Linked DNA regions of Homo sapiens: region 2 is linked to region 1. A link means that fine-mapping ties the variant in region 1 to the expression of a gene that starts in the linked region. Tissue or cell type: whole blood. Region 1 holds a variant in brackets; the other region holds the start of a gene. All regions are shown on one strand. Distances are from middle to middle.

The links. PIP is the estimated chance that this variant, and not a neighbour inherited with it, causes the effect.
Region 2: it holds the start of AK2, and the variant in region 1 is fine-mapped to the expression of AK2 in whole blood (TOPMed, PIP 0.99).

The regions. Positions count from the first base shown.
Region 1 is chr1:33,064,920-33,067,681 of GRCh38, reverse strand. No RefSeq gene overlaps it. Among named protein-coding and RNA genes, the nearest start is that of AZIN2, 15 kb to the left of the region's middle. The variant A/G (reference allele first, on the strand shown) is at 1,317.
Region 2 is chr1:33,035,794-33,038,555 of GRCh38, reverse strand. AK2 (adenylate kinase 2) reads left to right here and starts at 1,673. Exons shown (of 6, transcript NM_001625.4): 1 at 1,673-1,820. The coding sequence starts at 1,728. RefSeq lists an enhancer at 1,695-1,854.

The DNA of each region.
Region 1 (2,762 bases):
AGTATAAGGAGGAGAATCATTAAATAAAACCTATTGTAAATGAGATTGAGTGCTGAAGGAGGAAGAGAACAGAGGGATGTTATTTTCAGGCTAATAGAAATGGTGAGATTTTTAGGTTTGTAAGGAGAAAAAGAGAGGTAATTAGAAGTGGGATTAGTTAGATGGGTCTCCATTGCCATCAGGGAGGATTGAATCAGACCCATTGTGATTTGGTGTGCCTGCTTCTGAGGAGTCGGCACAGATCTCACTACGTCTGAGGGCAGTCTGTGACACAGACGTCTTTTCTTTGTGGTTTTTGTTTGATGATCTCCTGGTGAAACACAAGCATATTCTCTTTCCTACGTTAAGGAGAATAAGAGACAATATTTAAAGGTTTGGGGAAATCCTGTAAGGCAGTAATTACAGCAATTAACTCTGCCTTTTGAGCAGAGGCATAAGGGGTAGAAATAAGCTGTCTGTAGGTCTTAAATAATTAATGTTACCTAAAAGTTTTTGGAAGTCATTTAAAGTTTTCAAAGAAACTCTCTTAATTTGAACTTTTTGAGGTTGAATACGTTGTTTATCGACCACCATTCCTAAATATTGAACAGGAGTGGTCTGTTGAATTTTATCCTGAGTGATGTGTAATCCAGCCTCTGTAACACAGCGGCTTAAAATTTGATAACAGTCAATTAATTCTTTATTAGTTGGGGTAGCAATTAAAATATCATCAATATAATGAAGAATATAGGCCTGGGGAAATTGGGCTCGAACTAGTGAAAGCACTTGTCCGACATAAAGCTGGCAGATTGTAGGGCTATTCAGCATTCCCTGAGGAAGTACTTTCCATTGATAATGAGCTGCAGGCTCCTGATTATTGATAGATGGTACAGTAAAAGCAAATTTTTTACAATCCGATTTATGTAAAGCAATATGAAAAAACAATCTTTAAGACCAATAACTATGAGAGACCAATTTTTAGGTATTAAAGCAGGGGCAGGCATGCTGGGTTGGACAGCTCCCATAGGTTTAATTACAGCGTCAATGGCCCATAAATTGGTTACCATACGCCACTTGCCTGATTTCTTTTTTACTAGAAACATAGGAGAATTCCAGGGGGAAAGAGAAGGTTCCACATTTCCAAGTTGTAACTGTTCAGAAACCAATTGAATTAAAGCCTCCAGATTTTCTTTAGAAAGCAGCCACTGCTGAATCCAAACAGGTGTGTCAGATTTCCATTGTAAAGGGATAGGATCAGGAGGCATGGCAGTGGCCACCACTAAAAAGGATAATCTAAACCATTACTGTCTTATTTTATAGTAATTGGGAGGGGTTTA[A/G]TAATCCCTTCATGCTTCGGACCGAGACCTAGCCCAGGAACAAACCCATGTTTTTCATCATATGCCGACCGGGAACACTATAAGAGTTATATGGAATATTAATTTTAGCCTCAGTATCTACTAGGCCCTCAAAACTTTTTTCCTTGAATGTGTATGGTGAAGGTGGGCCGTTGTTTAGAAATTGTATTAATCCAATAAGCAGCCTTTTTACCACCAGAGTCTATCCCAGAGCCACGTGTCTTATCTCCTTTGTTTAAAACGATATTAGGTAGTAAAAGCAATTGAGCCTGTTTAACAGTAGTAAAAGAAACAGGAGCTTGGCCTGGGGCACGTAATTTATCCCAAGCTCTCATACACACCTTTGTTACTTGTTTTGTGGTAGGAGCATCAAAGCCTACTTGGGCTTAAGTATCAGAGAAACTATTGGAGCCTGTGAGCTGAGCCTGAGTAGTTAGAATGCCATTAGTCTGATTTAGCTGAGCCTGAACATGGGCCTCCTCTGCCCACCAGGCTGAGATGGGGTTAGAACAGCTTTTTGCCAAAAGGTCCAAGTCTAAAGGAAGTAAAGTGACCTCCATACAAAAAGTTTGTAATACCATTTTAACATAAGGAGAAGTAGGACCATACTGACTGAGTACAAGCATCCTTAAATTCTTTTAAAAAAAGTAAGATTGAGCAGTGCATATCGACACAGACCGGTTGAGGAACCGAAACGACAGGAGGGTGAGGGGCTGTAGTGGATGGGGGAGGGCCTGGAGAATTATAGGTAAATTGTAGTTTGGTCCTGGAGCCATTTGAAGAGACAAGAATTAGCATATCTATGGTCCTGGGCTGTGTGAGTCATGGCCGCGGGAGCTTCAAGTACCAGTTCTTCATGAAAAGAAGATAAGTAGGGGGTAACTTTAAGCCAAAGTCACCAGAGTTAGACATTGAATTTTCAGCATCGTTAGGTGGGGGAGGAGTAGCCGAAGGAAGAGGCTGATCAGATAATGAAGGCCGTGTGGGAGAGGAAAGTTGAGGAGGTATTAGGATGGCACGTTCCAAGGCCTAATCACCCCAAACAGTGACGGGAACATAATTCCCTGCTGGGACCAGCTCCCAGAATGTTGAACCAACACGATCCCATACTTTTACATATACGGTTCCTTTTTCAGGAAACCAAGGACAGTATTTTTCCAACACCCTGAATAGAGTGACCATATTTTCCATGGTTACTCAGACCCTTCCCTGTTTTAACAGGTCTACATCTAAGGTTCCTTTTTCTTCTAATTTTAACGTTTCAGTATATATCACCTCCTGTAATTGATTATAGTCAACATTTTGTGTTGACCGAGCCATTACCGGCTCTGCTACATATTTACAATGTGAACTTTCCATTCCTTTTCGGGATTCTATCCCTGCCTCTTCTTCACAATCTATTACACAGCTTTCAGGGGCATCAGAAAC
Region 2 (2,762 bases), 29 kb after region 1:
CTGGGCTGGGCACAGTGGCTCACGCCTGTAATCCCAGCACTTTGGGAGGCCCAGGCGCGCGGATCACGAGGTCAGGAGATCAAGACCATCCTGACTAACACGGTGAAATCCCGTGTCTACTAAAAGTATAAAAAAAATTAGCCAGGCGTGGTGGTGGGCACCTATAGTCCCAGCTACGCAGGAGGCTGAGGCAGGAGAATGGCGTGAACCCAGGAGGTGGAGCTTGCAGTGAGCCGAGATCGCGCCACTGCACTCCAGCCTGGGCAACAGAGCGAGACCACGTCTCAAAAAAAAAAAAAAAAAGAAGAGACCACAGCTGAAGGGATAGCAAATTCATCATCAAGATGTAGAAAATGAGTTGTTAGGAGCCTGTGGGGAAACATAATCGTTTCATTACACACTCTTAACTAAAGGTCCAAAGAGGCCCTTGGAGCTGGATGAAACTTTCACACACCAAAAAGCTGTAGAAATTATTTCCCTATCCAAGAGGGTCATCTCTTTTGAGAAAAACTATCTTTTCCTGACTTTAAAAGGTTAACGTTTTTCTTAATATAAAGGTAAAACTTGTTTTAAACTTAAGTTTTTAAACTTATTAAGAATTTACCATAGAACTTTAAAAAATCTATTAAAATATACAAAGGAGAGGTGCTCCTCTAATCACACTACACAGCGGTCTACACTTGTAATAAACAAAATCGGGATTTTTTGGGGGGGGAGTGGGACGGAGTTTCACTCTTGTTGCCCAGGCTGGAGTGTAATGGCTCAATCTTGGCTCACTGTAACCTCCGCCTCCTGGGTTCAAGCAGTTCTCCTGCCTCAGCCTCCCAAGTAGCTGGGATTACAGGCATATGCCACCACTCCCAGCTAATTTTGTATTTTCAGTAGAGATGGGGTTTCATCATGTTGGTCAGGCTGGTCTCGAACTTCTGACCTCAGGTAATCCGCTCGCCATGGTCTCCCAAAGTGTGGGGATTACAGGCGTGAGCCACCGCGTCCGGCCAAAATTCGGATTTTGTTGTAACTGCAATTTTGTATCTCGCTTTGCTAACATTTTCCCGCATGATTAAATTATCTTATACAACAGGGGTATTCCAGGATACAAATTGGTTGCAATTTATTTAACCAATCTCTTATTGTTGGACATTTGGAGTATTGCCTTTATTTTATGGTTTTTCTCGGGCTTTTGGGCTAAGTGTTGCAATTAACAACTTTGTTACACGAATCTTTACTCATATCCTTGATTTTATCCATTGAATTCGTGGAAGTGGAATTGCTGGACCAAAGGGTATTTGAAACATATTACTAATTTGTCTTCTAAGAGTGATTTTACCCATTTAAACTCCCACGCGCAATTTAATAGGATTTCAATGTTGTTGCTGGTGTCGTCAACTGTCAAATGCCGAAGTATACCTTCCGGCCTGACCTCCTGTCCTCCTTCGCGTTTTCCCGCCCACTCCGCACACCCGCCACCCTTAGTACATGCTGGCCCGCCCCTTCCTTATCCCGCACCAATTCTGTCCAATCAAAAGCAAAGTTCCTCAGTATCGCCGTGCAGTTGGTAAGGTGAAGAGTCCGTCGTGCTCAGGGGCGGGCGGAACGGGCTGACGGACGCGGCTATGGGCCAGTGTGAGCGGCGAGTGGGACGTGCGTGGCGTGCGTGCGTTGACCTGGGAAGCACTGGACCTGTGAGGCGTGCGAACTGGTGGCAGTGAGAGACTTCGGCGGACATGGCTCCCAGCGTGCCAGCGGCAGAACCCGAGTATCCTAAAGGCATCCGGGCCGTGCTGCTGGGGCCTCCCGGGGCCGGTAAAGGGACCCAGGTGAGCGGCAGGACTGGGCTTGGCGGCGGAGCCTGCTGAACTCCAAGGTCAAGGCGGCCGGAGATCTAGAAGCCCTGGACCTGCCCGGAGCGGGCCGGGGACTAAGGCCTGCGGGGAACGCTGGCCGGGGTCTCGGTTCTGGTGGGGCATTTCGGAGAGGGTCCAAATTGGAGGTCGGGGCAGTCTGAGTTAGGATTGGAGTGCCCGAGGGATTCAGTGTTGAAGTGTTGGGTTAGGGAATGTGAGGGCTGATTAATTCCACTAAGGGTCTAGAGACTGGAAAGGTTTGAGGGGTAGAGTGAGCCCTGGGCCGAGGCATCTAGATTACAGGCTGAATGGAGGCAATTAGCTTTATGGCCCAGGTTACCTGCGAGTTGGAGGTGAATTGTCCAGAATCAGGGTTACATTCCAGGCACTGGAGGTCGGGAGATTTTGATAATGATTTATGACTTAGGGGGAGGGGAGGAGAAGCATCTCCAACACGTGGGGCAGAGTGAGAGGTGACATGTGCTGTGTGAGCCAGTTGAATTGAGATGGGAGGAAACCTAAGGCTCTCCCTGTTTGAAAGTTGGGGGTGAATGTGTAGAACTGGTTTATAGCCTGGAGACCCATGAGTCGCAACCTTTGAGTAGTGTCCACAATAAGGGTTGGGAGTGCTCATGGGACCTGGCTTGGAGTTAGGACCTGAGGCTACTGAAGGCTAAGCAGCTTGGGATGACGCAAATGATTTTAGATGAAAAGGAACTTGAATTTTTTTTTATTTTGTTTTTATTATTTTTGTTTGTTTGTATCTTCCTTCCCTTTGGTTTTTATTTATTTTTTCCTTTTTTTATTTTGTTGTTGTTTATAGGGAACTTGAAATTTTAACTTTATCAATCAACAGGTTAAAAAACAGGCCCAGAAAGGTCAGGTGGCTTTCCCAAATTAGTGAAATGAGTTTCA